Homo sapiens: one gene and its partners. The protein of the gene in region 3 purifies or fractionates together with the protein of the main gene of each other region. This does not show direct contact. Each region holds a gene or a part of one and is shown on either strand. Other genes may lie near its edges.

Evidence for each region.
Region 1: the proteins of OLFM2 (region 3) and LRIF1 purify together in Homo sapiens (affinity purification with mass spectrometry; 2 studies listed by BioGRID and IntAct, with this or other methods). This does not show direct contact.
Region 2: the proteins of OLFM2 (region 3) and KDM5C purify together in Homo sapiens (affinity purification with mass spectrometry; 2 studies listed by BioGRID and IntAct, with this or other methods). This does not show direct contact.
Region 4: the proteins of OLFM2 (region 3) and PEX6 purify together in Homo sapiens (affinity purification with mass spectrometry; 2 studies listed by BioGRID and IntAct, with this or other methods). This does not show direct contact.

The regions. Positions count from the first base shown.
Region 1 is NC_000001.11:110,946,923-110,954,807, reverse strand, and holds the end of LRIF1 (ligand-dependent nuclear receptor-interacting factor 1), read left to right. Parts: intron 1-1,992; coding exon 1,993-3,520; intron 3,521-4,684; coding exon 4,685-4,957; intron 4,958-6,408; coding exon 6,409-6,849; 3' UTR 6,850-7,618; downstream 7,619-7,885. UniProt on the Homo sapiens protein: Together with SMCHD1, involved in chromosome X inactivation in females by promoting the compaction of heterochromatin.
Region 2 is NC_000023.11:53,194,202-53,201,722, forward strand, and holds part of KDM5C (lysine-specific demethylase 5C), read right to left. Parts: coding exon 7,349-7,521; intron 4,958-7,348; coding exon 4,776-4,957; intron 4,745-4,775; exon of another isoform or gene 4,688-4,744; coding exon 4,563-4,687; intron 4,437-4,562; coding exon 4,289-4,436; intron 3,676-4,288; coding exon 3,570-3,675; intron 2,844-3,569; coding exon 2,485-2,843; intron 1,854-2,484; coding exon 1,715-1,853; intron 1,288-1,714; exon of another isoform or gene 1,210-1,287; coding exon 1,030-1,209; intron 868-1,029; coding exon 730-867; intron 538-729; coding exon 1-537. UniProt on the Homo sapiens protein: Histone demethylase that specifically demethylates 'Lys-4' of histone H3, thereby playing a central role in histone code. Does not demethylate histone H3 'Lys-9', H3 'Lys-27', H3 'Lys-36', H3 'Lys-79' or H4 'Lys-20'.
Region 3 is NC_000019.10:9,856,243-9,864,127, forward strand, and holds part of OLFM2 (noelin-2 isoform 2 precursor), read right to left. Parts: intron 7,280-7,885; exon of another isoform or gene 7,137-7,279; intron 4,553-7,136; coding exon 4,403-4,552; intron 1,934-4,402; exon of another isoform or gene 1,855-1,933; intron 1,620-1,854; coding exon 1,473-1,619; intron 1,241-1,472; coding exon 1,021-1,240; intron 672-1,020; coding exon 565-671; intron 1-564. UniProt on the Homo sapiens protein: Involved in transforming growth factor beta (TGF-beta)-induced smooth muscle differentiation.
Region 4 is NC_000006.12:42,969,078-42,976,962, forward strand, and holds part of PEX6 (peroxisome biogenesis factor 6), read right to left. Parts: intron 5,962-7,885; coding exon 5,798-5,961; intron 5,010-5,797; coding exon 4,926-5,009; intron 911-4,925; coding exon 808-910; intron 725-807; coding exon 591-724; intron 1-590. UniProt on the Homo sapiens protein: Component of the PEX1-PEX6 AAA ATPase complex, a protein dislocase complex that mediates the ATP-dependent extraction of the PEX5 receptor from peroxisomal membranes, an essential step for PEX5 recycling.

The DNA of each region.
Region 1 (7,885 bases), on a different chromosome or scaffold from region 3:
TAAAAATCAATTAAAATATAAGAATGCACAGAAACAGAGTGGGCCAGATTAGGCCCAGAGGCTACAGCTTACTGACCCTTTTTTCCTGATGAGCCTGGTGCTTAACTTAAAACAGACACTTGGTAAATTTTTGTGTAATGACTTAATATTGAATATGTTCTTATCCAGGTCAAATGTGCTTTTCTTGTGGTGCAGGGAGGTAATAAAGGTAGATTTTTCCTCTTAAAACCCTGAAAGCAAGAATTCATCCTTTTCTTTGGGTTTATTCTCTTTAGAAGTTAACTTTTAATTTATTAAAAGTCAGTGTGTGACCAGCCTGGACAACATAGCAAAACTTTGCCTCTATAAAAAATACAAAAATTAGCCGGGTTTGGTGGCGTGCATCTGTGGTCTCAGCTACTTGAGAAGCTGAGGTAGAAGGATAGCTTGAGCCCAGGAGGTGGAGATTGCAGTGAGCCAAGATTGTACACCTACACTCCAGTCTGGATGACAGAGCCGGGCCCTGTCTCAACAGCAACAATAACAAAATGTCAATGTAATATTTTGACCCACTCTCACGTGTCCAAAAGACTTTTAAATTTTTGTAAGGATATAATAATGTTATTCGGGCTGCAGAAAGGTAAACCAAATTTCTACGGATACATAGAATTTTGGGTATTGATTTTTATTAATACCTGAGAGTTTTAAAAACATACCTTTATGCTTTTGAGAATCCTAATTATTATCGTTATTATTTGCCCTTGAACTTTTGTATTTATTTGATCTTAGTTATCTAAGACCATGCTAGGTCTATGGTATATGGATGCTGCACTCATATTGGTAGAATATAATATGAGAGACAGTCTATAGACAAACATATTAATATATGATGACAATCTATGATATATACCATGAAGGAAGCTAACAAGCATAATGTTATGGATTAATTATGAAGGAAAGACAAGGATAAAGTGGTCAGAAAATGTATCTCTTGAGAAATATCATTTATGCCAAGACTTGAGCTATGTGAAGAGTTGAGTTGGGTGAGGCGTACCTAGGTAGAGTGATAGTATGTGTGACATGAAAGCTCAATATTTCCCAGGAGCTGAAAAATGTTTTAGATATAAATAAGGTAAGGTATTTACATTCAAGTAATCTCCAAATAACTAATTATGCAAACAGAGATTAGTATATATTGATTTTTCTTAAGATTAGACAGTCTATACTAAGAAATAATTCAAGGCATGGGGGTCAGAATTGATTCAGTTAAAAAAAATTGATTTCCAGTCTGTTCCACATTGATTGAAAACCATTCAGCTGAAATTGCAGTGGTATTATATGTATGGGTTGATAGGTGATTGACAATTGACTAATATAAATAATTGCTATACCAGAGACTATGTAGCACTAAACCTCAAATGTGCTGAAACAGTAATCAGAAGAAAATGATTCCTATGTAAACAGTTCAGTGAAATCTATAGCACAAAAATGTGGCAAACTAAGGTAACACCATGAGAGATAGCTTAGGCAAAAGAAGAATGGCTGGCAGAACTTGTGAGTTATTGAAGGAAGAAGACAGAACAGATTGAGGGGGAAAAGAGAGAAATGGAATAAGAGTAAGGGGAGAGGGAATGAGAATCTTCAGTTAGAGTAGAGGAGGAGGACAAGAGGAAGGAATTCAGGGAAAGGGGGAAGGGAGGATGCTAATATTTTAAGAGGAGCTTACTTTAGTAGTATAATTTTATATAGGGCAAAACCTTAGAAATGTCTACTTTTAGTCTTAGGAATAAATGTTATTATCTCATACCCATTGCCTAATCATATAAGCAGTTGACTATATCATTATCTCTTCTACTTCAAAATATTTGTTTTGCAGTCTTTCACTTTAAAAACTCAAAATGGAAAATTATATACTTTATTTTAATATTTACAAATATTTACAAATATTTATTTTTAAATAAAATGTATATACCATGTAGTATGTTGTATTTATTTACTCAATGTTCTTTTAAGTGTTTCAGGCTGCATGTACCAAGTAGTTCAGACGATTGGCTCGGATGGAAAAAATCTTCTGCAATTACTTCCAATTCCTAAGTCTTCTGGAAATCTTATACCACTAGTTCAATCTTCAGTCATGTCTGATGCTTTGAAAGGGAATACAGGAAAACCAGTTCAAGTTACTTTTCAGACTCAGATTTCCAGCTCTTCCACAAGTGCATCAGTTCAATTGCCCATTTTTCAGCCAGCCAGTTCTTCAAACTATTTTCTTACAAGAACAGTAGATACATCAGAAAAAGGTAGAGTTACTTCTGTGGGAACTGGAAATTTTTCTTCATCAGTTTCTAAAGTTCAGAGTCATGGTGTGAAAATTGATGGACTCACCATGCAAACATTTGCTGTTCCTCCCTCAACACAAAAAGACTCATCTTTTATTGTAGTTAATACCCAGAGTCTTCCAGTGACTGTGAAGTCTCCAGTTTTGCCTTCTGGGCATCATTTACAGATTCCAGCCCATGCTGAAGTGAAATCTGTACCAGCGTCATCATTGCCTCCTTCAGTGCAGCAAAAGATACTTGCAACTGCCACCACCAGTACCTCAGGAATGGTTGAGGCCTCCCAAATGCCAACCGTTATTTATGTATCTCCTGTAAATACAGTGAAAAATGTAGTTACCAAGAACTTTCAAAACATTTACCCAAAACCTGTTACAGAAATAGCAAAGCCAGTAATACTAAATACCACACAAATTCCAAAGAATGTTGCTACAGAGACACAATTGAAAGGTGGTCAGCATTCTCAAGCTGCTCCAGTGAAATGGATTTTCCAAGATAATCTACAGCCTTTTACGCCATCTCTTGTTCCTGTTAAGTCTTCAAATAATGTGGCTTCAAAGATTTTAAAAACTTTTGTAGATAGGAAAAATTTGGGAGATAATACTATAAATATGCCACCATTGAGTACCATCGATCCTAGTGGGACGCGATCCAAAAATATGCCTATTAAAGATAATGCTTTGGTTATGTTTAATGGGAAAGTCTATCTGTTGGCTAAAAAGGGGACAGATGTTCTGCCATCACAAATTGACCAACAGAATTCTGTTTCTCCTGATACTCCAGTAAGAAAAGACACGTTACAGACAGTGAGTTCAAGTCCAGTCACAGAAATATCCAGAGAGGTTGTAAATATTGTTTTGGCTAAAAGTAAATCTTCCCAGATGGAGACAAAATCACTTTCCAATACCCAGCTTGCTTCCATGGCCAATCTAAGGGCAGAGAAGAATAAAGTGGAGAAACCATCTCCTTCTACCACAAATCCACATATGAACCAATCCAGTAACTACTTAAAACAGAGTAAGACTTTATTCACAAATCCAATCTTTCCAGTTGGATTTAGTACAGGACACAATGCCCCCAGAAAAGTAACAGCCGTCATTTATGCTAGAAAAGGAAGTGTCCTCCAGAGCATAGAGAAAATAAGTTCCTCTGTTGATGCAACAACTGTTACTTCACAACAGTGTGTTTTCAGAGACCAAGAACCAAAGGTAATTTTCCCATGTCAGGGTGCTCTTTTTATATATCTATATAGAAAAGTTTGTTTTCTTAATTCTCAAAGTTATCTATGATACCTCTTTCCCCCACTGCCAACCCCATCACACACAGACTATACACATATGAGTATTTAAGTCAAAACTTCCATCTGAGCAAATTTGAGGAGGAGTACAGTTGGGTACAATCTTGTACAAAGGAGTACAGTCTTTCTCTTGAATCACTTGGCATGCCAAATCTTTAAAACAAAAAATTCACAGAGCAAAAAGGTTTAGAAGAGTTGGGGAAGGATAATGTGAATTCAAAGCTTAGTAAAAATATGTGAGTATATGTATATACATACATGTATATATGTATGTTCATATATAATAGCCTTTTTAGTATATGAGGAGATCAATATGCATGTAAAAGAGTTGGTTTTGGGGTTTTGTGGGGTTTTTTTGTGGTGGTGGTGGTGGTATACCATGGAAAAGGTGAGACAGGGCTAATCAATACCTTTCAGTAATTTGTGGAAATAAGATTTTATCAGCATCTTTGATGGGTTGATTTTTTTTTTGGTAGACAAATTTCATTTTCCTTTTTATTAGCTCTTTGTGACTCCTCAGCCAGTTACCCAACATGCCCACATAGTTACCTTTATGTTCGACTTAAGGTTTGTCTGTCTGTGTGCTTACTAGATATTTGTACCCATCTTTTCCTTGCTTACTTAGAGGTCTACTCAATAATGTCAGCATTTCTCCCCTTCAGTACAGAATTCATTGAACTCCAGAGATGTAAGGAGGTAAATTCTGATTGTTCAATACAAGATCGATTAAAGGCATGTGTGACTTTTCCAGAAGACTACAATTTCTAAATAATGTCATATATGTTATTTTAACGTTGTCATTAGTCTGTATTCTCATTTTAGTTGTTTTAGAATTGACTACTTATTACCTTTCTAGTGCAACAAATTAATTGAGAAATTGTAGGGGGGAATATTTTAAGTTTGTACTTCCTTATATTCAGTTTTTTGAGTGTGGGTGGTAAGGCAAGGATAATACAAACCAATCATAAAGCATGATATGTTCTTTTATGTAAGATGAAATAATCACTTAGTTGCTTAATAAAGTAACTTGAATAATTAGCAGTATTGTTTGTGTGTTTTCTTTTCCTAATTCCAGATCCATAATGAGATGGCATCAACATCAGATAAAGGTGCCCAAGGAAGAAATGACAAGAAAGATTCTCAAGGAAGAAGTAATAAGGCATTACATCTGAAGAGTGATGCTGAATTTAAAAAGATATTTGGCCTTACTAAGGATTTGAGAGTGTGCCTTACTCGAATTCCTGACCATTTGACCTCTGGAGAAGGTTTCGATTCCTTTAGCAGTTTGGTAAAGAGTGGTACTTACAAAGAGACAGAGTTTATGGTGAAGGAAGGAGAGAGAAAACAGGTAGGTAATACATTTTAATGTGCTCTTCATAGGTACTACAAATGATACATGAATATTACTTTTCTTGATTTGGTTTTAACCCTTGTGCATTAGTATAAATGATGGTTGTTACTGGTTTTGCAAATACATAATACCAAAATGATATTTAAAACAACCAGGCCCCAGCACTTTGGAAGGCTGAGGCGGGTGGATCACCTGAGGTCAGGAATACAAGACCAGCCTGACCAACATGATGAAACCCCGTCTCTACTAAAAATACAAAAATTAGCTGGGCCTGGTGGTGGTTGCCTGTAATCCCAGCTACTCAGGAGGCTGAGGCAGGAGAATCACTTGAACCCGGGAGGCGGAGTTTGTAGTGAACCGAGATCGCACCATTGCACTCCAGCCCAGGCGACAGGGCAGGACTCCATCTCAAAAAAAAAAAAAAGAACCAGGCCAGGTGCAGTGGCTCACGCCTGTAATCCCAGCACTTTGGGAGGCTGAGGCGGGCGGATCACGAGGTCAAGAGATCGAGACCATCTTGGCCAACATGGTGAAACCCCGTCTCTACTAAAAATACAAAAAATTAGCTGGGTGAGGTAGCACGCACCTGTAGTCCCAACTACTTGGGAAGCTGAGGGCAGGAGAATCGCTTGAACCCGGAAGGCAGAGGTTGCAGTGAGCTGAGATCGCACCACTGCACTCCAGTCTGGCAACAGAACGAAACTCTGTCTCAAAAAAAAAATTATATATATATAAACACCGCCCACCCCACACACACACACGCACAGGTAAAAATGCATCCCAGTTAAAGATATGTTTTAATTTTTTTTATTCACCTACTACATTTTTTTCCCATTATGTTACAAGAAAATGGCCATAGCTTTTTAACTAGTCATCCTACTTTGAGGACTCTATCTAAAGGAAATAATTCAAATGTAGTAGAAGATATAAGCATGCATATGTTCTTAATAATAACCTTTTAAGCAACTTATATAGCTAATAATGATAAAAAGAAATGTCTATAACTTTGCCTACTGTTATACTTTGACTTATGAGTATGTCATTATCATGTAATATTCTGAACTTTAGATCAGAGACTAGTAAACCTTTTCGAATGAAAATCCTCCATATGTGCCTGCTGTGCAAAGGAAAAGAAAAAAACAATCAATTTTATATCTCAGGCACTTTACAAGTGCTATTATATTTCTGTGGTGAGTCAGTATGCCTTCTAATACTTGACTTGAGCAAGAAAATGTGAATTAGGCAATTTCTTCTTACTGAATATGATTAAGACATTTTGGTACCATACAGTGGGAAATATTTCCCTCTTGCTGTAGTTGTCTTCCATAAATTTTGTTAATTGTAATAGCTAGATATTTGTTTCTGCAGACGTTGTTAAGTTTGGTAGTACCCGGTGCATTTAGCAGTAACATTTCGTTTTTGTTTTGGAATGTTATTCAATATTGCAGCAGAATTTTGATAAGAAAAGAAAAGCAAAAACTAATAAGAAGATGGATCACATAAAGAAGAGAAAAACAGAGAATGCTTATAACGCAATCATAAATGGGGAAGCTAATGTCACCGGTTCCCAACTCCTAAGCAGTATTTTACCAACTTCAGATGTGTCACAACATAACATTCTCACGAGTCACAGCAAAACCAGACAAGAAAAGAGAACTGAGATGGAATACTATACCCATGAGAAGCAAGAGAAAGGCACTTTGAATTCAAATGCAGCTTATGAACAAAGTCATTTCTTCAATAAAAATTATACCGAAGATATTTTCCCAGTGACACCACCGGAGTTAGAAGAAACCATTCGAGATGAAAAAATAAGAAGACTTAAGCAGGTGCTGAGAGAGAAAGAAGCAGCTCTTGAAGAAATGCGTAAGAAGATGCACCAAAAATAAAATCTCCTGTAAAGACTTCAGTGAAATAGCTGTTTTTTAAAATATACTTCAGCATTAATAAGTTAATTGTAGGTGTGTTCTGAAAGTGTCTTTGAATATGAAGCTTGTTTTTTCATCAGTCGATTGTACAACTTTAAGGAATACAGAAAAGGTTGATTCACATATGACTTGTGAATAATTTACATGGGGTATCTATACCTTTGTCTTAGATACCTTTTTTTGGAAGGATAAATTTTATATTTTTCTATTATTTTAACTAGAATTCTCCAAGTTTGAATATTTGGGCAGGGTTTTTGTTATTGTTTGTATCTTTACCTAAATTGCTCAGGCATTATTCCAGCAGTAGATAGTGACTGTGTATTACTGAAATTTTACAATTCAAGAGAGGAAATCAGCTCCAAACTTAGCTTTTCCAGTGGATTTGTATATGTACTTGCTTTATCTCTTTACCCTTAAAATGATGATACCTTGTATTCACCATTGTTTTTTTTAATGTCGTGAAATAATATGTATTATGGCAACATTATTTAAACATTCAAACATTTCTCAAGAATGAGCAACATTTGTAACTTTACAATGTAATTTTATATAATCCAAAGGTATTTTAGAATTCAGGCCATTTGATGTTTTGTTTGCTTATAGTGATGTGTTCCCAGGCAAATGCTGCTTTTTTTTTTTTTGGGACTATGTACATACGTTACTGAGATTGTGTAAAAAGTAGATCCTGAACAGTTATCACATTTAATATTTCTTAAACTGTAAAAGTGTATTTTCTCTGTCTGGTTAATCTTTGATTTGGGAAAGTTTGGGAATGGTGTAGGGATAGGGATTAAGAGATGGGGAGTTAGCTGAGCGTGGTGGTGTGTTTGTAGTCCCAGCTACTCAGGAGTCTGAGTGGGGAGGACTGCTTGAGCCCAGGAGTTTGAGGCCAGCCTGGGCAGCACAGTGAGACCCTGTCTCTTAAAGGAGGAGGAGGAGAACAATGTTATTAAAAAATGATCAGGCCGGGTGCAGTGGCTCACATCTGTAATCCCAG
Region 2 (7,521 bases), on a different chromosome or scaffold from region 3:
AGGAGGCTCCTCAGGTCTAGGTTCAGCCTGTAGCCGTTGGCGGAGCTCAGCCAGCCGTCCCAAAAGAGCAGTCACATCTTCAGAGGCCAGAGCCTGCCTGGCGCGGCCTTGCCAGCTGATGGCCCTCTCTGTGAGGCACTGCAGGGCCTCGCCCTCGGGCAGCCGCACAGGCAGTCTCTGCAGGGCTACCAGCAGTGCCAGGATGGTCTCCAGGCGCGGGCGCCTTGAGCGCATACACAGTGGACACAGGAATTTGGTGTCCCATTCCCACCAGGCCAGCAGTGGGGATGAGGTGGGATTGGGCCTCGGAGAGCTGAGGAGGCGAGGCACTGACACACACCGCCCATGGAACCAGTCCTGACACAGGTCACACTGCAGAGCTCCCGCCCCAGCCAGCACCTGCCCACACACACAGATAGAGGTTGTAGAGGAGGCCGTGCTCGATGATGCCAGTGGACTGGGCTTGGCCGAATTGGTGCGACGCAGCTGCAGGATACCCTCCTTCTCCTTCTGTTCCCCCTCCTTGAAGGCCACGATCTGCCATACCCAGGACAGGAGCAAAGTGGGTCAGCAGCCTACCCCTTCCCTTCTCTGGGCCCCCCCTTAACACCCCCACTCCCAAACCAGGAGAACTGAGGCTCAGGGGACAAGCGGTCTGCTCATGGCCACCCAGCTCAGACACTCTATCATCACCAAGCCCTTCTCCCCATCTGTGTCGAAGCTCCTTACCACAGAGCCTGGGTCCCTGAGGTCCTGCGCAGACAGCCCCAGCAGCTCTGTGTCAGATTTGTACAACCCCAGCTCCTTCTCCATCCACCGGCTGCGCTTGGTGCTGTCTGAGCCGGCATCTGCACATGGGCAGAGAACCTGGGGCAGGCAGACAAGAGAGGGAATGACTGGGCTTCCCTTACATCCCCCGCCTCCTTCCCTCCCTGGTGCCCCTACAAAACCCATGTTATCTCATGAGCCATCTCACAGAAGCCAGGGCAGGCGTTAAGAGACGCTGTAGGTCAAGGTCCCAGGCCTCACCTCCAGCAGCGTGTAGCAAGAATTTTTCTTGAGGAAGGTCTTGGAGGCCTTCTCCCTCCAGGAGTGCGCTGTCAGTACCTGTAGCTCTAGCTGTCTCAGCTCCTCCAGCCCCACAGGTAGGTCCCGGCCCACAGCTACTAGGCCCTCCAAGTCATCCAGGCAGGGGTAGTGGTCACCATTCTAAGGCCAAGGGCGAGAGACAGCTCAGTTCAACTTGCCAATGCTATTGATGCTTACTCTGTGCCTGGCCCTGAGCTGGAAAGATGAACTGGGCTCAGTCTTGAGGGATTAAAAAAATAGGTGTCATCCTAAGGAACAACCACTTGGCTCTCTCCCACAACACCGGCATCTACTGACTGGCTCAGCCCCAAATATCTAGTCAGCCTTCTGTTGTGGTTTGCCTCTTCTCCTCTCCTCCATGCCCCTGCCCTGCTCAGTCCCATACCACCTGCTTCCCTGGCCCACCAATCTCATCCTAACCAGTGCCCTCTCTTCCTTCAGGCCAGCCTCACACTCTTCCTCTCACCCTGCTCATCAGGCACATCTTGCCTCCTGACTACATGCCATGCCCCCTTCCTCTCTCCAGCCAACCCAACCCATCCCAGCAACCCAGCACATCCCAGTGTATATGCCATCTCTTCCCAGCTGGACTGAAGGCCTGGGGTGGGAGTGGCAGGGTCCTCACTTGGATCTCATCAACATCAGCAATCCAGGCCCGGGCCTTAGCAAGAGCCTCCTTGAGAGCCTGGATGTTGGGCAGGTGAACAGGGATGTTTTCCGCTTCACGGATTATGGCCTCAAGTGTGGCTGGTGGATGCTTCTGCCTAAAGGTAAGGAAAAAAAGAACGCTCAGTCTGATGTGGTCTGCCTGACCAGAAGCCCAGCCTGACCACCAGATATATCTGCATGGGCCCCTTGGGTGTCTGTTATTCCTGCTGTCACTTGGGCCTACTTGCTTGTATTCCACCTAAGGGTAGCTGCCAGTCCCTGCTTCCCCAAGACTGCATGCACCCAACTTCATCCCTTCTGCCACAGCTCTTGCACCTCTGTTTGTCTGCCAGTCTGCTGGCCTGCTAGCAATGCCTACATATACAACCTGTATTGTGTAATCTGTTGCTGCAGTTTGTCAACTGCCCTGTGTGGGGTCTTTCTACCAACATCTGCCCATCTGCCTGTCACTTGTGCTTCTGGGTATGCGCACATTAGCCTGTAGGGCTAGTCTTCTAGATAATCTCTATCTGTCCATTTCTGCTTCTCCATCAGCCTCTCTTTGCCTTTAAGTATACAGAGTTGTTTTTTAAAAAAACGACAAGATAGACAACAAAAGAGGGGAGAGTCAATACAGTAACACAGGAGCGTGATACCTAAGGCCACCCATGGGCATCCTCTTCTGGGTCTCCACTCAACTTTGATGTTTGGAATAGGGCAGGGAAGGGAAGCAGCAGCTGGACCTACCTGGCCTCCAGGCAGAGGTGGGCTTTCTCCTCCCAGCGTTCAGCAATGGTCAGCAGTTCCTGCAGCTCGGCCTGGGCTTTATCCACAGCAGGGCTAGGGGCTACACTGGCACCCGCGACCAACAGTCCTCGCATGACAGCCAAGGTGCCCCTTCGGGCTGAGGGGGCCAGTGTGCGTTTCACCTCATCCAGCCATCGCGCCTGTTCCACCTGCCGCTGGAGCTGCTGGGCCTCAGGCACCTCCACCCCCAGCTGCCGCCCCCTCTCCAACAGGGACTGCAGTAGCCCTGGACTGGAGGGCAGTGAGGCCAGGGCCTCACGAGCCTCAGCCTGGTAGGCCTCCACCTGTTCCAGAACACCCTACCAGGACACAGGATGAAGAACAAACTCCTCAGCTGGGCCCACTGAGGGGTTCCACCACCAGATGGAACCTTGTCCCACCTATCTTCTTACCCTCCAAGCTTTTGGGGCAAAGGAGCCTAACATGGGCTGAGCTCTCCTTCTCCAAGCCCTAAGACAGTTGGGGTTCCTAACACTGACTGCTCATTAGAATGCCCTGGGGAATTTAAGAATGCAGATTCCTGGGCCCCACCCTGAGAGATTCTTAATTAACTAATAATTATTAATCTATGCTTTATTTAACTTTTCAGAGGGCTCTGTTCTCAGGGCACCAAGAGACCTCCCTGCCCTAAAAATTGCTATGATTAGTCCTCACATAAACCCTTGTGCTCACCACCCTGGGGTCTGTTGCCCTCTCCATCTCACTCCTCCTCCACCTTCATGAATTTCCCTCCACTTTCCAAGCCCAACAAGCACCCCTGTTACCTCCTTCTCCTCTACCCCTCCTCCAGGAAACCTTACCTGGACTCTGTATCCTATACCCATACCCTTGCCACCTGACCCTCAAGGCCCATTTCTAACAGACAAGTCACTAGACCCTTGCCTCACCCCTCCCACCTGTTCTTTTCTCACACGTGTGTCCTGTCTTGCCTGAACACTTTAAGCTTTTGAAAGGAGCCAAGCATGGCCTGCTGCTCAGGTCCCCTGGTCCCCTTGATCCCTCATCAGCACTCCAAGCGTCCTCACCTTGACATCCCCAATCTGGTGCATGGCGCAAGGCAGGTTGTTCATCTGGTCCAGAAAGGCCCGGAGCTCAGTCAGGGTCATCTGTAGACCAGCCACCCTGTGGGGGCTATGAAGTATCACATGTGAGGTTTCAGGTCCAAACTCAGTGCCTTCCCTCCATGTCTATGCTAAGACTGAACACCTTTCCTCACTACACCTGTCCACCTTGATCTCGCATATTTCAAATTTGCCCCAATTGCCCAGGTTAGAGGGAAGGTTTTAAATTATAGAGCATGTTCATATTATGAGGGGAAAGAATTAGAAACTAATGGGTTGTAATAAGAGCTACACTTTGCAATCCATCCTCTACTGTGAACTCTAAAGCTGTGTTAGCAGGGATCAGGTCTATACATCTTTGTCCTGTTCTTACCCGTAAGCCTCCCACAACTCTTCCCTGCCCACAAAACCCCTCAGCCTCTCTCTCAGGCCACTTCCAGGTACTGATAAAAAATAAACACTTCTAGCTTTCTTATCACAGAGGCTCTCCTCTCCTTTTTAGGTGGCCTGGTCTCCTTGTCCCCCCCAACACCTTCCAGGCCATCTCACACTCTTGTGCCTGGCAGCTTCCTGCTGATGTCCATTCTGCCAAATGGTATTCACAGTCTACCCCTTGCAGCACTTTTCCTCGGTGCTGGATCCTCAGCACCTTATGTGTGCCCTAACTCCTCACGCTGTCATACCCAGCTTCCTGGCCGCTGACCAGTCCCAGAGCTCGGGACACGCAAGCCTCTGCCTCACTCAGGCAGTTCTTTAGTTGCTGCAGCAGCTCACTATTAGGAAACCTCCGCTCACGGGCTTCAGACTCTAGTGCCCTCAGTTCTTCAAGGCCTGGAAGAAAAATGAGGGCAGCAAAGAGTAGGCAGTATTGAATAGAGGCAGAGGAAGGGGGTCAGAGTACAGAAGAAAGGGAATAGAACTTGCCTGTGGAGTCCCTCCATCCCCCCCATCACTCACTGCGCTTCCGCCCATCCTCCACCTCCAGGGCCACTCGCACTTTGTTGGCCCAGGTGTCAAAGGACTCAGCCCGAACCTTCAGCTTATGCAGCATGGCAGGAAGCTCATCCAAGGTATACCGATACCTGGAGGAAGAGGGCAGGCAAGAGCATGTCTGGCCCAGCTCTCCATCCTCCTTCTTGCCCCACTTCCTCCAGAAAGGCCCATGCTCACCGCAGGTACTGCCGGCTACTGGAGCACTTGCAGAGATCATTGATGTGGGAAAGGCAGACAAGGCCGTCTGGGCAGTCGTAGCAGGCCAGGGCTGACAGGAAACACGTAGTCTTGCACTTGATACACTGGCGCTCATCATCTGGGAGCAGCTCGAAAGCCTCTCGCTCAGCCTCTGTGATACCCTAAGGGCATTTAACCTATGCGTTATATATAACCAGAACCAGGTAGCAAAATCCTCCATCTCAGCCACCACCGACCCCTACTTTAGATTCAAATCTATGCTGAGGGTCATGGGGTTTAAGAGGCCAAACCCCAGGGAGCATACCTGCCCTTTGTAAAGTCTAGACTCTCAAAGCTTGGGGAATCAGATAAACCAGGGCAAGATCAGTGTGCGCTGAGTCAGATAATTTTATAGAGGAAGAAAAATCAGGTAAGATCCAGATCAGCAGAAAGGGTCTTGTGGGTGAGAAGTGAGGAAAGTGGTGGACCAAGATACCAGAGAGGTGGCAATGAGTGCAAGTGGCCAAGGGACAGGCCTGGCTAGTTATGTGTACTGGGGAACAATATCGGCTTCCAGTTACTCAGAGCCCACTGTGTTCCAGGCACCACGCTGGCCACTTAGTAGGCAGGAGATACTTGTGCACATATATAACTTAGAGAAATTCAACCGTATGTGCTTGTGTTCAGGGTTTAAAGAGATATAATAATTTTCTCCCAACAATATGGTTTCCAAACCTAATCCAATGACTTCATCTGTTGCTCAGATAAAGAAAAAGCAATCCATTTCAAAAATGAAGGAAAAGCTGGCTATATTGGAGTAATCGAGAGACAACCCAGTGTGTATATCTAATGGGCAATTTTAGGGATTTTAATGGGAAATGTCAACTCTTAACAGTTTTTGTCTTACATACCAACTTTAACACCTAATCTCTGCATAAGTTATGAGCCCAAATCCCACTCTGCCACTTATATGCTGTGTGATCATGAGTAAATCATTTAACGTCTCTGGGTCTGTTTCATTATCTAGTAAGATGGAGATAAACAGTATCATCCTTGTTGGGTTGTTATGAGGATTAACAAAAATAAAGCAGCTATGGAATCAGACAAGTATCTCAGCACTTAGATTCAGTGTTCATCAAATATTTACTGTTATTAGCTCTAATTTTCAGATAAGAATATATATTCCACAGGCCTATCTCATTTTACTAAGGCAGAAACTAAGTCTCAGGGTCAGTAACTTGCCAAACTGAGTTAATTTTGACTCTAAAGCCAGAGAATATTCTAAGGATGAAGTCTCTAGGGTTTTTTTGGACTACAGACTCCTGAGAATTGGATGTAAACTATAAGTCCTCTTCCCAGAAACATACTTAAATACACATACAATCTCTTACAGGATTCCAAGACTATGGTGTCCAGAATGCTTCTCTGAGGTAAGGGCCAAGTGTGAAGAATTCTGAATGTCAAGATGAGAAGGTCTATTCTCCCCACCTTGCTTTGGCTCCTTCCCACAGCTTGGCACAGCCACACGGCCATCATTTAATAACAGTACTGAACAGAGTGAGAAAATGATGCCTGGAAAAGCCCAGGGACTCAACAACTTACACCACGACTGAGAGGCCCCAGACTTCCAACACTACTGTAGCTATAGTTCTCCCTATAGCCCACACTCACAGGAAAGCTATAAATGAGCTTTAAAATAAGAAAGTATTACCCTAGATAGGCAGCAAGGGATCCCACAGAACCAGCACTCCTTTGTAATCTTATGAAAGACTCTCACAAAGTCAATTCCCTAACTGGGCAAGTGTGAAATTTGAAGATGATGGCTGAAACTACACGAGTGGACTTTAGAGCTCTGTAGCAGCTTCCACTCAGCTACACACACAACTGACACAAGCTTACAAGAAATCAATTAAAGCAGGACCACCTTCAGCTTGGTAATATTATTGCCCTAGCTGGAGTTAATAAACCATCTGCATGTAATAAAATGGCAATTCCTGAGAAACATTCCAAATTTCAATCAGTTTCTTCATGTATTAACATTACCAATAATAGCAGCTGCAACATTGCAAAGGCAATGTTAGAGAGATGGCTTTCATATAAATCACCTTACTCTAACCTTACATCTTGCAAGTTAGGTATTTATTCCCACTTTAGAGTAGGAAAGTGAGATATGAAAGATCAAGTAACTTGATACAGTCACCTAGATAATCAGCAGTGAGGTTTCATATGCCAGTCTATTTTGCTAGGTCATGTAAATAATGATAAATAGCTGCTATACCAGTACCTGCCATGGGTCAGTCACTAAGCAAACATTATCTTTAATACAATCAACTATCCAAAAAGATAAGCATTATCATAATCCCATTTTTCAGAGGGGAAAACTGACAATGAAGTAAATCGACTTAAGGTTGCTGGTAAAGGGTATAGCAGAGAATGGTATGTGGTTTTCAATCGAGATGCATCTAGTTCTTTTCACTATACGCCAAGAGTAGAGGCTACATCTTCTTGGTGCTGCCTCTGCCTCCCCGAACTTCCACCAGAATAGGGTGCTTGATCTGGGGTACTCTCCCCACCTTCTCCAGCAGGGCCTTTCGTAGACGCCGCTCTTCTTGCACCATGATGAACATCTCCTTATGCACAGCTGCCGCCAGGTTCAGGTCTAGCTTCTCTGGGCAGGCAGCCATCTTGCAGATAAGCTCCTCATGGGAGAAGACGCAGTATCTCCGGAGCCGGCGGTAGTGCTCAA
Region 3 (7,885 bases):
CATGCACCACCATGTCCGGCTAATTTTGTATTTTTAGTAGAGACAGGGTTTCTCCATGTTGGTCAGGCTGGTCTCGAACTCCCGACCTCAGGTGATCCGCCCACCTCAGCCTCCCAAAGTGCTGGGATTACAGGCATGAGCCACCATGCCCAGCCTCATGGATGGTTCTTGTGTGTCTAAGTGATGGGCAGTCATGACCATGGAAGCTACTAGAAGTCCGAAGGTCACTGAGCAGTGCTTGGTGGAAGAGGTCTCTTGTCCTTGGGAGGGCATTGGTCATTGGGTAGTTACTTGGACGTCAGTAGTCCCTGAGAACTGGTCAGTAGAACTCAGTAACCATTAGCCACTATACAGACACTGGAGGTCAACAGAGTGGGATTCACAAGGCTGCAAAGCCCTTGGTCACTTGGGGGTTACTGGACAGGGAGGTCCAATGGCCCTGGGGGATCCAGGACACTTTGGGCTACAAGACAGTCACCAGTGTGGACTCCCTAGGCACCTATGGGCAGTCAAAGGCTCTGTCCCTCCCAGGCCCTGACCCCAGGGGTGGGCGCAGTCACTCACCCGGCTATCCGCACTGGGGGCCATCGTGTCAGTCATCCAGGAGCCGAAGCGGGACCCCATGGCCCGAACGGTGATGGGGTTACTGACCCCGGTCAGCTTCCCACAGCCTGGGAGGCAGGAACAGGGGGAATGAGGATGGGGAAATGAACAGCCCAAGAGAGGCCAGGCAAAGATGAAGTGCTGTGATCAAGTTGGGAAAGCTGGGACCAGGGATGAGGGAAGACTCAAAAATCTGGTCCCAATATGTTGTTCAGTTGTGAGTGAGGGGTTAGAGGCCAAGGGTCAGGGCCATTTCCAGCTTCTGGACTCAAGTGTAGCCTTAGGTAGGAAGGTCAAGGGTTGAGGTTTAAAAGTTAGAGGTCAAAACTGTGTCCAGCTTCTAGGCACAAACAGGTGATACTGGAGTTGGGTGTGGCAGTCAGAGATCAGGGGTCAGGGTCAAGGGCCAAGGCATACCCAGCTTCTGGGCGCAGGCGTGGAGCCGGGCCTCCAGGGCCATCACCCGTTGCTGCAGGTCCTCATACCCGTAGGCACCCATCTCCTCCTGAATGGCCGCCAGACTGCCGGAGAGATTCCTCACCTCCTCCCGCAAGCGTACAATGGTCCGCGTGTCTGCCTTGTACTGCTCCAGGACCGAGCTCAGGGGCAACAGTTCCGTCATCCTGTCCTTCAGCTCCTGTGCATCAAGATGGAACCATGGCCAAGCCTGACCCCTGGCCTTTGACCCAGACATGACTCCAACCTCTGACTCATAACTTCACCCTTTGTCTTTGATGCACACCTGGCCCTTGACATGTGGCTCATATTGGACCCTAGATTCTTCCCAGACATGACTCCATTGTAGGAACTAATGGATACCAAATCCCAGTCATTTGTTTGACCTCTGGTCTGGACACAGGAGGACCCACCTGGAAGCTCTTGGCCGAGAGGGACCCATCAGCTGCCCGGAGCCGCGCATCCAGGCTCCGCATGAGGGTCTCCATGCCGCGTACATACTGGAGGTCGCGATACGTCCGCAACTCAAGGACCTCCATGGACTGGGAGACGTTCTGGACCTAGGAATGGGGACAACTGAAGGGACCAGACCTCCTTCCCCAAATCCCAACCCAGAGATGCCACAGACAAGAGCTGGCAGGAACAGAGGCTGTACAAACACCACACCGACGAGGCCACCTTCTCCTCCCCTGAGCTTACCAGCAGCCTCCCAATTGCGTGCCCAATCCATCCATCCATCGCTCCCTCCCTACTACCCACTGGCTCCCATCTGGTCCACCTACCACCACCTCTCACCTCCTCCCTAGTCTCCCAGTTCCACCTTCATCCCCTGTAGTCAATTCTCTACACAGCAGACAGAAGGAACTTTCAAAACAGAGATTAGATCACCTTCCTCCTCCACAGATCCTGTGCTGGCTGGTCCTGCCCACCCCCCCCGCCCAACCCACTTCCTCTCTCTTTGTTCTCACAGACTCTAAGCTCCTTCCTTCTGCAGGGTCTTTGCACTTGCTGGTCTCTCTACCTGGAGTGCTGTTCCCCCAAGTTCCCATGGCTGGCTCCTTCTCATCCTTCAGGGTTCAGCTCCAGCGTCCCCCACTCAAAGCATCCTTCCCTGACCACCCTGTCCGGTAGCCGCTCACTCACTCTCCTCTTGCCTGGTCATTTCCTTCCCAGCTGTGACTATGTAGAACATTCTTATCCATCTGCCTCCTTCAGGTGGGACCCTCAGAGGCAGAGGCTGCGTCTAGCTTGTCCACAGCTTAACCTCCAGTGCCCAGCACTGGCCTGGAGTAGAGGCCCAATAAGTATTTTTTGGCTGAATGAGTAAAATAAACTTCCCTTGCCCTGGCCTCTCCTGACCCAACCTGAGAGCACCCAGCTCCCACCTCCACCTGGCTACGGTGAACTCCACCTAGATAAGTTGAACTCCCCCTGGCTAAGGTAGACTCCCATCTGACTAAGGTGAACATCTGGCTAAGGTAGCCACCTTGTTAAGGTGAACTCCATCTCTGGCTTAAGTAGACTCTCACCTGGCTAAGGTAGACTCCAGCTGGCTAAGGTGAACACCTGGCTAAGGTAGACTCCCACCTTGTTAAGGTAGACTCTCACTTGGCTAAGATGAACACCTGGCTAAGGTAGACCCTCACCTGGCTAAGGTAGACCCTCACCTGGCTAAGGTAGACCTTTACCTGGCTAAGGTAGACTCTCACCTGGCTAAGGTAGATTCCCACCAGCTTCACCTGACTAAAGTGGACTCTGCCTGGCTAAGGTAAACTCAGTCAGAGTTACCACTGGATGCTTGTTGAAATACAGACTTTCCTGTACAATTATTCACATGACACTTGGAAACTCCCAGAAACTCAGCAGCCTAATACCCACCCTGAACGCCACAAAACATTTTTACATACTCTTCCCTTCTCCACAGTTTCACGTTTCAGCTACCTGAGGCCAACCACAGTCCAAAAATATTAAGTGGGAAATTCCAGAAATCAACAATTTGTAAGTTTTATTTATTTATTTATTTATTTATTTGAGATGGAGTCTTGCTCTGTCTTGCCCAGGCTGGAGTGCAGTGGTGCCATCTCAGCTCACTGCAACCTCCACCTCCCGGGTTCAAGCAGTTCTCCTGCCTCAGCCTCCCGAGTAGGTGGGACTACAGGCACACACCACCACGCCCGGCTAATTTTTGTATTTTTGGTAGAGGCTGATCTCAAACTCCTGACCTCAAGTGATACACATGCCTCAGCCTCCCAAAGTGCTGGGATTACAGGCGTGAGCTACCACGCCCGGCCCAGGGGACTATTTTCTCTTGACCATGATCAGAGGTAGAAGGAAACTTTTATAGGAGCCTCTTGAGGTGGAGGGTTAGACCCTCCCCAAGGGGCACAGAACTCCTTCTTAGTAGGTGAGTCTGGTGAACTGCAAAGCTGGGTGGGACATGCCTGGTGGACCAGAGCTCACACACAGGAGACTCAGATGCTGCCCCTCCAGTCTTCCTTCCTTCCCCCCACCCCAATCCCAGTAAGTGCTTGGCTTCTCTCCCAAAAAAGCATTGAACAGGCAGGGCGCAGTGGCTCACGCCTGTAATCCCCGCACTTTGGGAGGCCAAGACAGGCAAATCACCTGCAGTCAGGAGTTCAAGACCAGCATGACTAATATGGTGAAACCCCATCTCTGCTAAAAATAAAAAAATTAGCTGGGCGTGGTGGCACACGCCTGTAATCCCAGCTACTCGGGAGGCTGAGGCAGGAGAATTGCTTGAACCTGGGAGGTGGAGGTTGCGGTGAGCTGAGATCGCGCCACTGCACCTGCACTCCAGCCTGGGCGACAGAGTGAGACTGTCTCAAGGAGAAAAAAAAAAAAAATACATTGAACAGATATTGGATAAAGTATCCATCTGGGCATGGTGGCTCACACCTGTAATCCCAACACTTTGGGAGGCTGAGGCAGGAGGATCACTTGAGCCCAGGAGATTGAGACCAGCCTGGGCAACATAGGGAGACCCCGTCTCCACAAAAAATATAAAAATTAGGGCATGGTGGTGCATGTCTGTAGTCCCAGCTACTCAGAGGCTGAGGAGTGGGGATTGCTTGAACCTAGGAGTTTGAGGCTGCAGTGAGCTGATCATGTCACTGCATTCCAGCCTGGGTAACAGAGTGAGACCCTGTGTTAAAAGGAAAAAAAAAAAAAAAGGACCTGCCTGGAGAGGAGCTGGATTATCAGCCAGCTCTGAATAATTTGCATAGCTGGATATGGCCACTGGCTGACCTGGATGGGGCTGGAGGGCGGGGTGAGAACTGGGAGATTTTCCCAGCTGCCCCCAGGGTACCTGGAAGGTTCTCACCTTCTCCATCAGTTGCCGCAGCTCCCGACTCCTGCCATCTCGAGAGCAGGTACTCTGCGCTGGGATCACGGCCGTGCAGATGCATTTCCCGTCAGGGGCCTGGGCTGAGGTGTACAGCTGCCAGCCCTCTTCTGGGTTCTGGAAGAGAGTCTGCAAAGAGGTGGGGGTCAGAGACCGGAATCCCAGTGAGGGTCTCGCCTCGCCCTCACTGGGACAGGAAGGGGGCCCAAGGAAACCACAGATGCCCTTTGCTGGGCTCCGGGCATATGCCAGTGCCTGTTGTGTGTGATCTCAGGCCCTCCTTAAGGAGCCTCATTTCACGGATGGCAAGACTGAGGTGCGGAGGGCTTAAGGAACACGGCAAGGAATTGGAGGACTCAAATCTTCTCCAAGACCAGAATTCATTCTCTCACACAGATTTGCACGCACACAACACTGTCTCTGTGACTGCCATTAGAACAGAGATCCACTCAAATAACCCCCAAACCTGGACCTCCTCTCTGCTTCCCCAGCCCACAGTGACATATCGGCTCTGGAGCTATCTCAGGGCCACTTAATGTTTTTTTTTTTTTTTGGTTTGTTTTTTGTTGTTGTTTGTTTTTGAGACACAGTCTTGCCCTGTCACCCAGGCTGGAGAGCAGTGGCGCGATCTGGGCTCACTGCAACCTCCGCCTGTCTCCAACACCTGGCCTCCACTCCAGCCTGGGTAACAGAGTGAGACCCTGTCTCACAAAAAAAAAAGGATCTCACCTCAGGTGATCCACCCGTCTCAGCCTCCCAAAGTGCTGGCATTACAGGCGTGAGCCACCGTGCCCGGCCATCAGGGCCACCAAATGTTAAGTGCAACCCTGCTGTGCCCCCACCTCACCTGGAGCCACCCAGGCAAAGTGATGGCAGACAAAATGCTCAGATAATCCAGTGACCAATTATGGCTTTGTTTCCCAAGCCATACTCCTTCCAACACTGGTAATCTTACCAGGTGTGCTGGGAAAAGGATGCTCTGTGGTCAAATAAATGTGTGTCACTGGGTGAAACAAGTTTTGTTACTGCAGGACTTATCAGAGGCTTAGAAATGCAAATAAGTACCAGGGAACTCTAGACACAAATCATAAACTTCCAAACTGATTAGAAGACACCCCTGAGGCAGGTGGATCACCTGAGGTCAGGAGTTTTGAGAACAGCCTGGCCAACATGGCAAAGCCCCATCTCTACTAAAAATACAAAAATTAGCCAAGTATGGTGGCGGGCACCTGTAATCTCAGCTACATGGGAGGCTGAGGCAGGAGAATGGCTTGAACTTGGGAGGCGGAGGTTGCAGTGAGCTGAGACTGCGCCACTGCGCTCCAGCCTGGGCGACAGAGCAAGACTCCGTCTCAAAGAAAAAAAAAAAAAAAAAAAAAGAAGATATCCATGAGAGTCTCTTCTGTCCCAGGCATAGGGTCTGGGATAGGATCAAGGAAGAGAAGGAATGAAGAAAACATCTGGTGGTTGTCCATGGAGCTACTAGGAGAGACGGACATCAACCACTTAATGCCAGTGATACTTCTAGAACCACATGCTGCAGTGAGTGCTTTGAAGAAGTAGTGCAGGGAGTAACAGGGGGTCTTCCCTCAGGCTGAGGGTCTCTGAGGAGGTATCCAAGAGAATGGGCTCTTGAGATGAACTTGAGGGACGAGTGAGACAGAAGAAAAGGAGAAGGCAGGGGACATTTCTATCATTACAAATCCTGATCAATGTCTGGAGGGACCCAGGAATGGTGGCTCACGCCTGTAATCCCAGAATTTCAAGAGGCTGAAGGGGGCGGATCACTGAAGGTCAGGAGTTTAAGGCCACCCTGGGCAACATAACAAGACCTCATCTATACTAAAAATTAAAAAAAAAAAAAAATTAGCTGGATGTAGTGGCATGCACCTGTGGTCCCAGCTACTCACAAGGCTGAGGCAGGAGGATTGCTTGGGTACAGGAAGTTGAGGCTGCAATGAGCTATGGCTGTGCCACTGCACTCCAGCCTGGGTGACAGAGTGAGACCCCATCTCTTAAAAAAAACAGGCCAGACGCGGTGGCTCACACCTGTAATCCTAGCACTTTGGGAAGTGGAGGCAGGTGGATCACCTGAGGTCAGGAGTTCCAGACCAGCTTAGCCAACATGGTAAAACCCCGTCTCTACTAAAAATACAAAAATTAGCCGGGCATGGTGATGTGCGCCTATAATCCCAGCTACTTGGGAGCCTGAGGCAGGAGAATCGCTTGAACCTGGCGGGGTGGGGGCAGCGAGCCGAGGTTGCAGTGAGCCGAGATCACACCACTTTACTCCAGCCTGGGCAAAAGAGTGAAACTCTGTCTCAAAAAAAAAAAAAAGGATGTGGGGGGACGTGAGGGTTGTGGGGTGACTGGCTTGGGCTTGCACACGTAGGCGTCGTTTGTTCAAAACCTGAAGTCTTTGTTCAAGACCTGAAGGAAGTGAGGGAGGAGCCATTTGGATGTCTGGGGAAGGGGTTCCAGGCAGAGAGAACAGCAAGTAGAAAGGCTGAGGCAGGACCATGCCTGGTGTGTTTGTGAAACAAGGAGGAGGCCCATGTGGCTGGAGCAGATTGAGTAAGGGGTAAGTGGAGGCAGATGAGAGAAGGGAGGTGATGGGGCAAGGCCTTGTGGGAAGCAGTGAGGGCTCTGGGTTCTGCCCTGAGGAAGGTGGGAGCCATGGAGGGTTCTGTGCAGAGGCGAGACGTGACCTTACTTGGGTGTTCACAGTGACCTCTGGCTGCTCTAGGGAACGAGGGAGGGAGGCCAGGGCAGGGGTGACTGCACAGATCCAGACAGGTGATGATGGGTGGTGGCCATAGAGGCGGTAAATGGAAGATTCTGGTCCTATTCCAGGATGCATTCTGACAGGCATGGAAGAAATTCTGATTAAAAAAACCCCAGTGTTTTACAGAGAAACAAAGCACCACAATCATTGATCATTTGCACAGCCATTACTAGATCTCCCAGCAGAATCGGTGCCGTGAGCTGCAGCACAGATAAACCAAGCTGTGAATTATGAGCGATCCCGGGGACTCCAACTATTAGCCCACCTTTTTCTCTCCCACTCAATCGAGTCTTTTTTTTTTTAAGGCTTATTGGAATATGAGCAAATGATATAATTGTACAAATTATACAGATGAGCTTGACTCCCCCACTAATCTATAAGGAAAACAAACCATTCATAAACGCCAGCTGAAACTATTACAGTCAGTCATTCTTCGAGCCTTTGTACACCCTTCCTAAATGGGGGGAACCCCCTCTTTGTAAGTTGCACATCCTCAGCCCTGGCAGCGGAGCACAGTAACTCACTTTCTCCGCCTTCCTTGTACTCAGGTAGGAGCTGGGTGGAGCTAACATTCACTGCAGGTGTGCCCAGGATTGGCCACAGCCAAGAGCTTTCTCTGGTGGTCATATCCCACCCTGCCCTTGCATGGGGCCAGCAGAAAATACACCCAGCAATCC
Region 4 (7,885 bases), on a different chromosome or scaffold from region 3:
ACCCTGTTTTTCTCTCCTTGAGCCTCCCTGACCCCAGGACAGGGCTGTCCCCATGTAGTGAGGCTGTGTCTCCCACACCACCTGCGGTGCTCTGGCCGGGGCATCCAGCATATCCAACAGCCAAAGACTAATTAATTCCCTTTGGCATTGCTGTGCTGCCAATAAAACCTCAACGTTATGACTGGTCTGAATGGTATTGAGAGACATTGTGGTGGCACTGAGGTGGGGATCTGCGTCCACACCTGGGCCACTGGTATGAGGAGTTGTGTCCTTCAGGGCCAGGGCAGTAAAGTGCAGGATGGCCAGTGAGCTCCCCAAGGGGAAGGGCAGTCTCAGAAACAGATGCCCCTGCTGGAGATTCTTCCTCCAGAGCCAGCCCTGGAGGACAGAGGTTATCCCAGGAAAGGAGCCTGGGAATTGGCTTACAGAAAGGAGTGGCCTGGTGGCCTTGTGTAGGACATACTGGTTTGAGGAAGGTCCTCCCAATCCCACTCTGGCCAGTTCATTAGGAACTACCCATCTGGCTGCTGCTCCTCCAGGGATGTTCTAAGCAGGCTTTTCTCACACCCTGGGGTGATGACCTCACTCACCCTGGCTGGAGGCGAGGCTTCAGGACAGCACAGAGTTCAGACACCAAGGCCTCCAGGCCTGGAGGAGACAAACTGCTCCAGAGAGTGGATTCCTCTGAAGGGAGCCATGGAACAGGGCTCAGGGTAGAACCCACCTGTGAAAGGTAATAAAAAGCTTTCGTTTCTAAAAATCGTTTCTACCCCCTGCGCTGGTCTACACCCATCCTTGGGGCCTCACCATGTACAAGGAGGTATGGGTGGTGTCGGCCAAGTAGGCACTGGCTGGTCCATCTGGAGCTTCCCCAACTGTTTTCTTCACTTTAAAAAACATTTCCCGCCACCTGCAGGAAAAAGGCCCAATGAACCCCAGATCCAGAGTCCAAAAACCCCCCTCCTCAAGGACAAGGTTTCTCAATCACAGAGGACAAACAAAAGCACCACAAGAGCGTGTCCCGAGTCATGGTGGGGAAAAGGAATGCAGATGGACTTTCTCATCTTCCTGACAGACCATACACACCTTGAGGGCAAGAGCTATGCCTGTCCCTCTGCATCCCCCATGACAGCCATGAGAGCTCTGAGGGGGTGTGTTTCTCCAGGCATGTGGCCTACCCACCCACACCAATGGGAGAAGCTGCTGCTGCACTAAGCAGTGGATCATCTGATTACTTCTACTGGCTTCGGTCTCCCCCTCAAATACACAGCCATCCAGGCCCCAAAAACCCTAGGGGGAAGGGTCCCTTGGCTCTTACTCAATAATCCACAAAATCTCATTGCAGGCGGAGTCCTTAATAATGCCATCTGATGAATAATGGTTCTGTATTCTGGCTGCACATTGGAATTATCTGTGTAACTTTAAAAACTAAACATTTCTCACATATTATATGATTCTATTCAGCAGATCAGCAGTTGCCATTGCCTATGAGGGAAGCTACAGGGAATGACTGCTAATGGGTGCAGAGTTTCTTTTTGAGATGTTGAAAATGTTCTGGAATGAAACAGTGATGTTGGCTGTACAACCTTATGAATAAAAAAATTGAATTGTATACTTTAAAAGTATGGTTTTATGGTGTGTGAATTTTATGTTTTTAAAATTAACCTTTCTCCTTCCTTTGTGAAGGAAAAAAAGCACAGGCTCCAGTCTCACCCTGATTCTGCCCCAATAGATCTGGGGTGGGGCTTAGGCACCTGTATTTTTTGAAAGCTTCCCCAGCAATTCTGATGCATAACCAGGGCTGCGCAGTAGTTGGCGAGTGTCATAGTGAGTTAGGGTTATTCAACCTACTAACGGGGAATAGGATGGGTAGCAGGAACAGCTACTAACCCAATTTTCCAGATAAAGAAATCATGAACTACTTCCCTCTTTAATCCTCAGGCAGCAAGGCAATGACAGAGTCAGGCTATAACCTAGTCCTCTTTAAGGTCCAATCAGGCTGCAAATTCCTCTGCTCACACTGCCCCACAGTCTCAAAGCTGCTCTCTCTAGCAGCAAAGGGGTGTGAGAGTGCAGCAAGGTGGAGGGGAAGCATACCAGGTTAGTATTATGAAACTCTTCTAAGTACTACAGTAAACCTGGAACATCAGGAAGCCTGAATCTGCCTATAATTAATTATAAATAGGTGACAGTGGGCCTCTAACCTAGGATCTCGATCAAGCTCAACAGCTGAGTCATGGTGTGTATGACTCACCATGGAAGCCCTGCATAGGAATGAGATGGGGGACAGCACTGTGGCATAGGGAGAGACCACCTTCTTCAGTGGAGGGTGGTTGGACCACCTCAGTGAATAGAAAGGCCAGAGCTCTGGAACCTATGTGGACACTGCTAAGGAACACTGAGCTGTGCTCCAGCCAGCCAGATAGGTGATAGTGGAGCTGGCTCCCATGCAGCCTGGTTTGGGGAAGTGGAGCACCAGGGACAGGATGAAGAGGCTACACCAACAGTGGAATTCCTTTCCAGGGCTCACAGGAACTTCTGCAGGGCTTCCCTTCTCAAGCCCAGTGCAGCTTAAAACGCTCATCTGTATCTGTCCTTGGACCCATTGGGCCACTTACTCCAACCCTGCTTTCCTTGCGGGGAAAAGAACTATGTGCTCGGCACTCAGGAGGAAAGCAGGGTTCTACAGAGTTGAGACAATAGAAGTTCAGGAACAGAACTGGCTTGCCAGCCTGTCTCATGAGGTTCTAGTGCCTATTTTCCTTTGAAAGTACAAAGAGTGGGCATTCTGTAGTTTTCCTACTGAAAGCTAGCTCAAAGACGTTTGCTAAATTTATGATAGGAGAGAGAGGTGGGAAGTGACTGCTAAGTGCCAGCCTGGCATTTTCCACCAGACTCGTGGACTTAATCTGGAAAACCTCGAAGAGGTGACATGGAGCCTAAATGGGGTTCCACAGAGCACCACCACCCTGAGACTGGGGGTACTGAGCACTGGCCAGAACCAAGCACTGGATATTGACCAGGGATGAACATCAGGCACTCCAAACAAGGACTGTCTCTCCTGGCAGAGGACCCAGGCTGGCTATGCCACAGACCTTGGACATGAAGGCTCTTATGTATGAGTTAGTGCATCTATCAGCTGTGCTCTCCTTCTAGTAAACTGCTGCAGGAAATGAGTCCAGAATACAGGGAATGCTGGGATACAGAGCTATACATTTTCCTCCCTACACATAAGGCTAAAGCAGTGTCTCAATTCTTTGCCTCACCATTTTACATGGAACCTCTGTGGTCAGAGTCAACAAGAGGAGAAAAGCTGGATTCCTTATTTTGGGTTCTTGGCTCGGTTATGCTCTATTTCTCATTCTCTGTTGATAGGACAGGGTAGCCCTCTCAAAAACAATAGAAATCCCTGGCTGGGTGCGGTGGCTCACGCCTGTAATCCCAGCACTTTGGGAGGCCGAGGCGGGCGGATCACAAGGTCAGGAGATCGAGACCATCCTGGTTAACACGGTGAAACCCAATCTCTACTAAAAATACAAAAAATTAGCCGGGCGTGGTGGTGGGCACCTGTAGTCCCAGCTACTTGGGAGGCTGAGGCAGGAGAATGGCATGAACCCGGGAGGCGGAGCTTGCAGTGAGCCAAGATTGCGCCACTGCACTCCAGCCTGGGCAACAAAGCAAGACTCTGTCTCAAAAAAAAAAAAAAAAAAAGAGAAATCCCTCTCCTGTTTTCAGAGATAGGATTGAGAAGTAGTTTGTGCACACTCCGTAGTTAAGGCAGAAATCAGAGCCTGTATATCCTTACGTTGAGATATGGATGGTATGGCCCAAGTCTTGGTCCAAATAACACGAAGGCTAAGAACGGAAAGGAAGGAATCCCGTCTTGGTCTAGGCCATTAAACTCTTCTTTAAAAAGAAAAGAATTTAAATTTTACCTATTTATTTATTTTTTGAGATGGAGTCTTGCTGTGTCACCCAGGCTGGAGAGCAGTGATGCGATCTGGGCTCACTGCAACCTCTGCCTCCCAGGTCCAAGTGATTCTCCCGCCTCAGCCTCCTGAGTAGCTGGGATTACAGATGCCCACCATCACACCCGGCTAATTTTTGTATTTTTAGTAGAGACAGGGTTTCACCATATTGGCCAGGCTGGTCTTGAATTCCTGACCTCAAGTGATCTGCCTGCCTCAGCCTCCCAAAGTGCTGGGATTACAGTCGTGAGCCACCACACCTGGCCTAAACTCTTCTTAGTGCTTTGCTTTACATAGGGCCACCAGTCAGTTTGAGGATAAACACCTCCCAAAGCCAGCAGGGAGTGGTTCTTTTAGTTTGCTTGTTTTTTGAGACAGTGTCTAGCTATATTGCCCAGCCTCCTGAGTAGCTGGGATTATAAGTATGCACTACCATGCCTGACTGGTTCTTAACCTTTCTTCAGTCATACACTTGTTTGGGAACTGAAGGACAGGTGAATTTTCTCTCCAAAAAAATGTACACAGGCTGGGGGTGAGTGGTGCACACCTGTAATCTCAGCACTTTGGGAGGCCAAGGCAGGCAGATCACTTGAGCTCAAGAGTTCGAGCCCAGCCTGGTCAACATGGCGAAACCCTATCTCTACTAAAAATACAAAAACCAATAGCTGGGCGTGGTGATGCGAACCTGTAGTCCCAGCTACTGGGGCAGAGGCAGTGCTGAGGTGGGAGGATCACTTGAGCCATGGAGGTAGAGGCTGCAGTGAGCTGTGTTTGCACCACTAAACTCCAGCCTGGGTAACAGAGCAAGAACCTGTTACACACACACACGCACACACAAAATACATGACAACGAAATCCTCTTGGGCACAAATTACACATGATTTGCAGGGAGGGGATTGTAGAACTCATGCACCCAGGTTACAAATCCCAGCTGTAGGACAGAAGGCAGCTGCATACCTGGGCAGTTTCTCTGGACTTCCTTCCAGGATCTCTACTTGCCCAATTGTTGGCACACATAGAACATCCCCTTCCTGGACTACCCTGCAACACAGCAGTGGCCCTGGTCAGGTCACAATGGGAGTAATGAGCATGTGTTCATTACCACATGTCCACCCCCGACATGCAGACTACTTCTTGAGTCTACTGCCCGCCCAGAGATCCCACGCAGTTCTCCAAGGAACAAGTCAGTCTTAGGATGAGCTAGGGGAAATGGTGGAGAGACTAGAAAGGGGGATCAGAGACAGATGAGTGGCAGAGCAGGATCCTGGCTCTTTTGGAGCCCTCTTTAATCACAGGTGTCTCTGTTTGGAATGTCCAAATTAACCTCATGGTTCAGATTTCTCTTCTGTGGTCTCCCTGATATACCAAGAGGCGCCTACCACAATCTGTCTGAAATGTTTTTTTTGTTTTTTTTTTTTTTTTTTTTTTTTGAGACGGAGTCTCGCTCTGTCGCCCAGGCTAGAGTGCAGTGGTGCGATCTCGGCTCACTGCAAGCTCCACCTCCCGGGTTCACGCCATTCTCCTGCCTCAGCCTCCCAAGTAGCTGGGACTACAGGCGCCCACCACCACACTCGGCTAATTTTTTTTTTGTATTTTTAGTAGAGACGGGGTTTCACCATGTTAGCCAGGATGCTCTCAATCTCCTGACCTCATGATCCGCCCACCTCGGCCTCCCAAAGTGCTGGGATTACAGACGTGAGCCACAGCACCTAGCCGCAAATGTGGCTTCTTTTAACCAGGGCCTCTGGGGTACTTGGTTCTAAGGCATGGGATAGGAGGAATGTAATGAGGGTGAGAAGCTATCCTCCTTAAAAGGTTAGGTAGCTAACCTGGGTATCTGAAAGTGCCGGTAAAGAACACCGTCATAATTTCCATTAGTGCTGTAGTGGGGAGAAGACACAATTTCGATGTGTAACTCTCTGGCAAATGGAGGCCCAGGCAGCAATGAGCAGCTTCCTTTGTCTTCAGGGGCGATGGAGCCTTCCAAGTACCTCTATTAGAGAAATAACCACCACGTTATAACCTTCTCCTAAGGGGGCAGGCTCTAACCTGTCTCTCAGCAGCCAACATGTCTATTTCCATCCTGTCTTTCCCATAACCACAAGGCTTGTGGAAGGTGGGGCCTGAGGTAGCAGACCTGAAAACCTCTCCCTCTAATGGGTACCAGGAAGAGAATATCACCTCCTATCCCGACTCTGGCTCCAAAAAATTTTCTCAGTAAAGATAACCTTTCTGTGACACTTTCAACTTGGCCCAGAGCCAGTGAAATGGTAAAGACATTTATTCCCACAAGACCTATTAGTGACACCAGGCATCCACAGGGATTAACATTAAGTGGTCATTAGTGGGGAAACTGAATTCAGGCTGTGGGAAAAGCTGAACGGGTTGGTTCAGTCATTGGTTGGTTCAATGAGCTCTACTCTTGAGTACCCCAGTAGTTTTTCCTCCATTCAGGAGGAAACCTACATCCACTCCCTTTCACATGTATTTCACATGTATCTCTACCTGACATCCCAAAGTATTAACTGGTTACTCTAGTACTGCCCAGTAGAACTCTCTACAATGGAATAGTCTATATCTGCATGTGCTATTGAGCACTTGAAATGTGGCTAAAAACAAAACAAAAACAAAGAAATGTAGCTAAAGCAACTAAAAAACATGATTTAGTTTTTTTTTTTTTTTTGAGACTTAGTCTCACTTTGTCGCCCATGATGAAGTGCAGTGGCACAGTCTCGGCTCATTGCAACCTCTTCCTCCTGGGTTCAAATGATTCTCTTTGTGCCTCAGCCTCCTGAGTAGCTGGGACTATAGGCATGTGCACCACCATGCCTGGCTAATTTTTGTGGGTTTTATTTTTTTCTTGAGATGGAGTCTCGCTTGTCACCCAGGCTGGAGTGCAGTGGCACCATCTCGGCTCACTGCAAGCTCCGCCTCCTGGGTTCAAGGGATTCTCCTGCCTCAGCCTCCAGAGTAGCTGGGACGACAGGCATGTGCCACCACACCTAATTTTTTTTTTTTTTGTATTTTTAGTAGAGACGGGGTTTCACCGTGTTAGCCAGGATGGTCTCAATCTCCTGACCTTGTGATCTGCCTGCCTTGGCCTCCCAAAGTGCTGGGATTTAATTTTTGTATTTTTTAAAATAGAGATGGGGTTTCGCCATGTTAGCCAGGCTTACTTTATTTAGTTTTAACTAAATTTAAAAATTTAAAAAGCCACAAAGTGGCTGGTGGCTTCCATATTGGACAGCACCATCTAAACCATATATCTAGGTCCTTAATTAAACACTATACTGTATTTGTCCCCCTAAACACAACTTTCATTTTTTTCTTTTTTTGAGACAGAATCTTGCTCTGTCACCCAGGTTGGAGTGCAGTGGTGTGATCTGGGTTCACTGCAACTGCCACCTCCCAGGTTCAAGCGATTCTCCTGCTTCAGCCTCCCCAGTTGTTGGGTTTACTGGTGTGCACCACCATACTGGGCTGATTTTTGTATTTTTAGTAGAGATGAGGTTTCACCATGTAGGCCAGGCTGGTCTCGAACTCCTGACCTCAAGTGATCTGCCTGGCTCAGCCTCCCAAAGTGCTGGGATTACAGGCATGAGCCACTGCGCCTGGCCTTTTTTTTTTTTACACAATGAAGGTTTATTTTTTTGTCACTCTTATGTCTGTTATGGCGAACTGGTGAGTCTTTACTCAGTAACCCATGGAAATGGAACAACTATTATCTGTTCTACAACTTTCTTCTTGAAGTAAAGGCAGAAACCAAAAACTTTCCTTGGATGTATTTAATAAAATATTAAAACTAAACACCAGGCACCAAAGATAATAAAGACTCCTTTCCTTCAAGGTATTTACAATATATAATTGGGGATTAAACAGATTATGTAATCATAACAAGATAGAATAAAATAAATGCC